2 linked regions of the Homo sapiens genome follow. The protein of the gene in region 1 purifies or fractionates together with the protein of each later gene. This does not show direct contact. Each region holds a gene or a part of one and is shown on either strand. Other genes may lie near its edges.

Region 1 (3,821 bases):
CCATTGATTAGTCTCATTATGGCACTATTACCTTTGATTACTTGGTTAAGGCGCTGTATGCCGGGTTTCTCCAACGTAAGGATAATATTTTGTCCTTAATCATATGGGGGGGAGCTACTTTAAGACTAAATATCCTGTCCTCCTCAAAATTTCACCCACTAGTCCTACCATCCATTGATACTTCTTACTGACATCAATTATTATTATGATGGCTATCAAATGGTTTTTCTATTATTATGATGGCTATCAAATGATTTTTCTAGTTCCAGTATTTCTCGTATGTTTGTTAGCTGGTTTCCTACTTGTAAGGTAGAGTGTTCCCTTTCCCTTTATGTATCTTAGTGTGGACTCATAAGTCCTTGTTTTATTCAATTGGCTACAAATGCTGTAGATTAGTAATTATTTTAATATTCCAGTTGTTCCACATTTGGCCAGTAAAACTTCTACAAGTGGATTCCTGTGTCCTTTTAAAATGTCCCTGTCATTCTTCAAAGCTATCACTATTTAAAGGCAGCTTCCAGATGGGTTGAGTCTTTTCCTATATGCCCTTGACTTCCTAATGAATACTCAGTTAATTTCTCTGCCTGGCTGGAGAACTCCTGGGCTTCCCTGGACTTCGCCCTTCCCCTACCTCCATTGCTACCCTCCCAGCAAGGAGGCTTCACCAATGACTGACATGGCATTAGCATGGCCTTCTTTTTTTATTGTTTGTTTGTTTTTGTTTTTGTTTTTTTTTTTTTGAGACGGAATCTCGCTCTGTCGCCCAGGCTGGAGTGCAGTGGTGCGATCTCGGCTCACTGCAAGCTCCGCCTCCCAGGTTCACGCCATTCTCCTGCCTCAGCCTCCCGAGTAGCTGGGACTACAGGCGCCCACCACCACGCCCAGCTAATTTTTTTTTATTTTTAGTGGAGACGGGGTTTCACCGTATTAGCCAGGATGGTCTCGATCTCCTGACCTCGTGATAGCCTGGCCTTGTTTAAACACAAAACAGAGTCAGCCCCCAACACAGGGCTGCAGAAGCAGGCGGCAGCAGCATTGGGTGGACACAGCCATCCTAATGGTGTTTGTTTTTCCCCTGTGTAAACTAAGAAGTGGTTGTGAAGGATTTTCCCTTTGTTGCCTGTTGCTTTTTTATGCTCCAAAGAGGAAGCAAATTTTGATTTTGCTCAGTAATAAAGGGTACCCAACAACTGAATTCTTACCTTTAAGCTAGCTGTTGCCAAAAGGGAGGCAAGGAAGACAGCTGATAGACTGCTCATTTTGAACCCAATCTTACGTCAAAAGAGCATATTTTTTTCATTGCTGTGTGTCACATGCTAGACCCGGAGCATTTCCTTGTTGCCCCTGGGCTTAGGAGAAGTCCTTGCTAAATGCAAGATGTAGAAGTGGGAGTGACATATGAAAAAAGAAATGAATTAAATTTGATATGACACATCATATAAGGAAGAATAATTGTAGACACAGGCATGCAGGGGTTGGGTGTGAGTACATTAGTCCCCACCCTTTTCGTCAGCAGTCACACAACCTTGGACATTAGAGCCTGTCCGTCTGATCTAGAGAAGGAATGTTGCTGGGGAAGGAAAACTCAGGGCGAGGTGAGAGAGGACAGAACCTCTAACCAGGAAGAGGCTGTCCCCGCCAAGCTCCGGAGAGGCGCGGAAGCATGACCCTCAGGTATGGGACCAGGTCTATAGGAAACCCATGTGGTGTGCCCTAATGGGAGGCAAGCCGGGGAGGACCCAAACTGGAAACCTGATTCTGAAAGAGGAAAACCACCACAACATCCTTTGTAATTGTGCAGCTTGGAAGAACAGTATAGATCCTGTGGTTTTCCTGGGGAAGGAGGGGAGCCTAAAAGCCGCAAATGATGTATATTTCCTTCAGAAGCAGGGAAGGGGCAGTTTTCGAGTACGGCTGTTAAATCTCAGCACTCACTTCATTCGGTGCAGGCTGCTCCTGTGGTCTTGGCTATAGCAGCAGAAGGCGGGGATGGAGGGTGCCCCAGGGTCAATCTTGGTCAGCCTCCGAGGAGCTGGGAGTGCAAGGTGTCACTCTGGATGTGCCTGCCTGCTTTTCCTCGCCTTCTTGCCCTCCTTCGCCTTTCCTCCCTCTTTTCTTTCCTCCTTTCTTTCGCCTTCCCCTGTACACCTCTTGAATTCACCATCATAAAGTTGACCTGAGATGTTTCAATGAGTAATGTTTTATGATTGCTTCAGTTACATTATTACAATCCAGTCTGCCTTCCTTGTTTCTCAAACAGTTCTAAGCTCTTTTCTCCTTTTCTTTGACTTGTTTTTTTTTTTTTTTTTACTACCTATCCTCCTGACTAGTTGTTGTTGTTTGTTGGTTGGTTTGCTTTTAAAGAGTCCAGGATAAACAAAGTATTGCAGGCATGAAAAGGGTCAGGATTTCAGAGCGAATTGTGGAGGGGGAGGGTCAGGAGGGGAGGGGAGAGGAGGGGAGAGGAGAGGGGAGGGTGGAGGAGAGGTATTGAGGGAGGGGAGGGGAGAGGAGAGGTATTGAGGGAGGGGAGGGGAGAGGAGAGGTATTGAGGGAGGGGAGGGGAGAGGAGAGGTGTTGAGGGAGAGGAGGGGAGATCAGAGGTGTTGAGGGAGAGGAGGGGAGAGGAGAGGTGTTGAGGGAGGGGAGGGGAGAGGAGAGGTGTTGAGGGAGGGGAGGGGAGAGGAGAGGTGTTGAGGGAGGGGAGGGTAGAGGAGAGGTATTGAGGGAGGGGAGGGGAGAGGAGAGGTGTTGAGGGAGGGGAGGGTAGAGGAGAGGTATTGAGGGAGGGGAGGGGAGAGGAGAAATGTTGAGGGAGGGGAGGGGAGAGGAGAGGTGTTGAGGAAGGAGAGGGGAGAGGAGAGGTGTTGAGGGAGGGGAGGGGAGAGGAGAGGTGTTGAGGAAGGAGAGGGGTGAGGAGAGGTGTTGAGGGAGGGGAGGAGGTGCACGTGCTTCTTCTCGCCTGTCCTATTTATCCAGCTCATCTATGAATTATCAGCAGAAAAGGAAAGTAAAGGAGGAGTAGAGGCTGGGAATAAAATCCTGGGCTTTAGAAATGGGGTAGTTTAAGAGTATTCTGAAAGGTACAATGTTACACATGTGTACACAGTTCCATAGCAAAAGCGATTTTTCTGTCTACGGGACTGTTGTTGTACTTGGGGTTTTCTATCTTTCAATTGGTGTCACAGTTGATAGAAATATACCATGTAGCCCTTATTCCAGAAACAAGTCCTACTTGACATTGTTAATACTCTTGTTTGTATGCATAGGTTCTGGCAACTAGATTATATCTTTCTTGGATACTAGACCTCCATCTTTTTCTTTTTGGGGGGTGTGTTTTAATATGCTGTATCCAAATGGGGTGGTTAAGACACCCCTGGTCTATGTTTATTATGAATGTTTGCTCATATGACCCCCAGCAACACTATATAGTAGGAATATTATTATCCCCATCTACAGGCCAAGTGACTGAGGCCCAAAGTCCCACAGTAGCAGGGTTTTCTGTCTCCTGAGCCCACCCTCATAACACCTGGGCGACACGGCTGGCACAAACTGGAAATGTCTTGATTGGTTGCAGACACACAACAGGTTCACTGATAGTGCTCTCGTTTTTAATCCATAGCCATTAAATCATTCATTCATTCCACATTTATTGACTGCCTGCTCTGTACCAGGTGCTGTCCTAAGTGCTGAGAATTAGACTTGAAGAAGGGTGGAGCACGGTAAGGAAAGAGGGTGGCAAGAGATGCACGGCTGGTCCGAGGGACTCTTCTACATTCCATGAGTCCTCCCAGGAAGAGTTGGAAGGACAAGGGGTTTGG
Region 2 (3,821 bases), on another chromosome or scaffold:
CTGTCAATTAATTTAGACTAGGAAAGTCTGTATGCTATGCCAGAATTTAGTCCTCCACCAGCTGAACTGGCACAAAGGCAACACCAAATTTCTTTAGATACTACTCTGAGATTCTTCCATTTATGAGAAATTGTCCAATGTTGGAAAGGGATAAAAAATATCAGAATAATTTGTGCCCTATTCTAATGGGTGTTAGCCTTAGCTTCCCATAAGAGTCACTCATGGAACCTTAAAGCAATCACAAGCCACACCACTGGAGATCCTGATTCAATAGGTGGGGAGTAGTGAGGGACAGGTATTTATCTATGGTAGGAGGTCTCAATGAAGCACACACAGAGTTGAGAACCACTCCACTACTACTCTGTAGTAAAATGTAGTATTCGCCTGAAGCTGAGATCAGATGCTTTTTTGCATCATGAGTTTTTAAACATTGGGACAATTATCCCTTTAGATTCTACCTGCATTGATTTGGTATTTTTGCCAAGCTGAATCATTTGGGCACTTATAGAGGTATCTTTGGCAATCTCTTTAGGGAATCTACCAGCAGGGAAAACAATACTCATCCTGAATGGAGCTTTACCACCGTACGAAAGAAGCCTGATCCAAAGAAAGTACAGAATGGGGCAGTATGTATATGGAGACAATTACTTACTCTTCATACAGTTTTTCAAACCATGTAGTGAGATGATAATGGCCTAAAATTGTTAGGATTGAATACCCCTAAATGCCTGTCTGCCTCACTGTGTTTGTAGTATGCTTCATTTGTCATTAGTTTTGAGCTAATTAAGAAAAGTTAATAGAAGTTATTTAAGTGGCCATATTGGTATTTTTTAAGTGCATTTCACCTGGAGATACATAAGCCCAGGGAATCATAGGTATCTATTGTAATCCCAGAAGTTAGAGGACTTCTGGATGATGAATGAGAATGAATGATAGGAAGAAAGCTTAGAGACTTGCCTTGCATACAATCTTTTGTTTTCAGTAGGGGATTCAAATTAGTTCGTATTTGTTAAAGAATAAGAAAATCATGACACTTATTTTAATTTCATGTGTATAATCTATATTATTTGTTCAAAGGAGCAAGATCTTGTGCAAACCCTGAGTTGTTTGTCTATGATAATCACACCTGCATTTGCTGAAGTAAGTACAGATTAATTAGCCTTGGATATCTGTGTTAAGTAGTATAATATTTTAAATGTTTTAACTATTATTCTTTCTCAGCTTAAACAGCAGGACGAGAATAACGCTAGCAGGAATCAGGCGATTGAAGAACTCGAGAAAAGTATTGCTGTGGCTGAAGCCGCCTGTCCCGGCATCACAGATAAAATGGTGAAGAAACTAATTGAAAAATTTCAAAAGTAAGTTGGAAATGTCATTTTAAAAATTATTTTGCATTTTCTGTTGTATGTTAATTTATGATGCAATGTAATTCCTTTGATTCAACCATTCCAATTATTCCTAACAAAGTCACCTTTCAATACATAGTTGTATACTTAAAAATAGTTTTTGTCTGTTGTCTATCTTAAACATTAGCTTTTAGAATGATTATCTTTAGGCATGACAAGGTAGTTTTCCACTGCATGAAATGACCTGTTTTTCTTTCTCCACTAGTAGGATTATAGACAAAAGGTCACTGAGCATATTCTCATTTGAGCTCTTATTAATATAATTGTGGAATGCTTTCTTTCTTGCCACTACCCTCAGAATTTAACAAAACACCACTAGTTGCATAGTTTCCAGTGCTAAAGTTCCTACGTTTGATCTCCATATGAAAAGTTAAGGAAAAGGTAGAGGGACTCAATCCAGACCAAAAAAGGGCTCTTATGTTCAACTTCAGTTTCTATGTTGTCTCTTGAAATATTCATTTGATTTTGTTCGCATTCAAAAAAGTTCTTACATTTAATTTTTTAAAAAATTTTCAACAAGACTTTTGTATGCATGCACACATATACACTCCTTAGCTCAAGCAAGCTATAAGGTGATACTGATTTTAGCCTTGACCCTGCTATATCTCTTCTCAGTGCATCTTTATATTTCTTTGTGTTTGTGATGCCACTGGGATCGAGATGGAACAAACTCTGTGACCTGTGAAATCACACACTCTCAAAGATCTTTCTATCTGATAAGGCTCACTTGTACTCGCAAACCTAACCCCCTCTTAAAATCCCTTATATTTTAATGAAAACCCCCCATTTGAAAACAAATCAATCGGAAGTTGTGAAATCAGATGCAGAAGGGATTTTTTAACTTGTTTATATTTTAACATCTACATGATAAGATTCAATAGAAACAATGTATCCCTTTTGTGGAATCAGTTTCTTCATTGCAGAGTTCATACAAAGGAGAAATATAAACATGCATAGTTGTACATTGGTTTAAATTTTTTAAAAATTTTATAGGTGTTCAGCAGACGAATCCCCCTAAGAAACTTATTATTGGCTTCTGTTTCATATGGACCCAGAGAGCCCCACCAAACCTACGTCAAGATTAACAATGCTTAACCCATGAGCTCCATGTGCCTTTTGGATCTTTGCAACACTGAAGATTTGGAAGAAGCTATTAAACTATTTTGTGATGGCGTTTATCATTTTATATTTTGAAAGGATTATTTTGTAAGGAATAACTTTTAATACTATAGTTTCACCTGTATTCTAGTAAATGTTGAGACACCGTTTTGCTTTTAAGTATCCCTATTTCTTAAGTTACGAGGATGAATACCTTTCACATTTTGATCTTTAGTTGACTCTACAGTCATGAAACATACAGGTCTTTCAAAGTCATTCTCAATATTCAGCTTTTGTAAATTATCAAGCTTCAAAAAGCTTTTTTTTTTAAAAAAAAACATGCATATTCTAAAAATGACTATTGGTGGGGAGGTGTAAATAAGTCATACCTTCTTAAAACAGAAAATTTAAGTAAAGTCTTTTAAATGAAACCTGTAAAAGTATTGACTCTTCTACCAAGTTGGTATGATATTCCAGGCAGCTCAATGATTATCACATTTGAGACCCTGTGTTTGAAGCATTTACAGGCAATGTACAGCAACAGAGGTACCTCTTGGTGTATAGTATTTACATTCTCTTTTAGGTAGAAGAGGCAATTTTACCCTTATTTCACATGGTTAGAAATTTAAAGCAAGATCATTTACCCAAGGATAGGTGTTTGGTAATGTTGAAGGAGTTAGTCTGGCTTCATGTTTTACATCTTCAACTAAAATCCCATACTATCTGCTTGGATTTGGAGAGCCAAAAAATAAAGCTGATTGTCATGTGATTAAATATCTGATCAACAGGTATGAATATAACTTAAATCAGCATATTTTTGCCATGGTAATAAATTGTCCTATAAACTATTTATATATTTTTGTTCTTCATAATTATCACTAATAAGCATCAGTTTGTTGTTTTTAAAAGGATATTTAAGTGAGCATTTTCTAGTTCATATGAAAATAACCATAGTACAGGATGATTTCTGTCCACACAAAGGTTAAATTAGATTGCACAGTTAATTTTCACTTATATTTATGGTACTATTATGTGGGTGATGCCTTTTTCTTTTAAGCCCAGTACATATATTATGCCTGCCTAAGTTCTGAACTGGGGCTGTATTTCAGTAGTTGTAGAATTATTGATATTTAGTTTTGATAGCTAATGTTTAATTGTTTGGATCTGCACAGTTTGGTTTTTGCACAAAAGTCATTTAAAAAAATCTGAGTAATTGTCAAATATTAAAAGAAAGATATTCTTCCTGTAAGGAATACAGTTTTTAGTCAAAGTGGCCATTACATCCTCTTTTTAATTTACATAATACAGATACTTGAG

Evidence for each region.
Region 2: the proteins of PGCKA1 (region 1) and STK26 purify together in Homo sapiens (affinity purification with mass spectrometry; 3 studies listed by BioGRID and IntAct, with this or other methods). This does not show direct contact.

What each region holds. Positions count from the first base shown.
Region 1 is NC_000004.12:37,582,715-37,586,535, forward strand, and holds part of PGCKA1 (PDCD10 and GCKIII kinases-associated protein 1), read left to right. Parts: intron 1-1,518; exon of another isoform or gene 1,519-1,674; intron 1,675-3,589; exon of another isoform or gene 3,590-3,821. UniProt on the Homo sapiens protein: Acts as a tumor suppressor. Acts as a tumor suppressor for colorectal cancer cell proliferation by targeting KEAP1/USP17/ELK1/CDK6 axis.
Region 2 is NC_000023.11:132,071,736-132,075,556, forward strand, and holds part of STK26 (serine/threonine-protein kinase 26), read left to right. Parts: intron 1-532; coding exon 533-626; intron 627-1,077; coding exon 1,078-1,140; intron 1,141-1,221; coding exon 1,222-1,358; intron 1,359-2,399; coding exon 2,400-2,424; 3' UTR 2,425-3,821. UniProt on the Homo sapiens protein: Serine/threonine-protein kinase that acts as a mediator of cell growth. Modulates apoptosis. In association with STK24 negatively regulates Golgi reorientation in polarized cell migration upon RHO activation.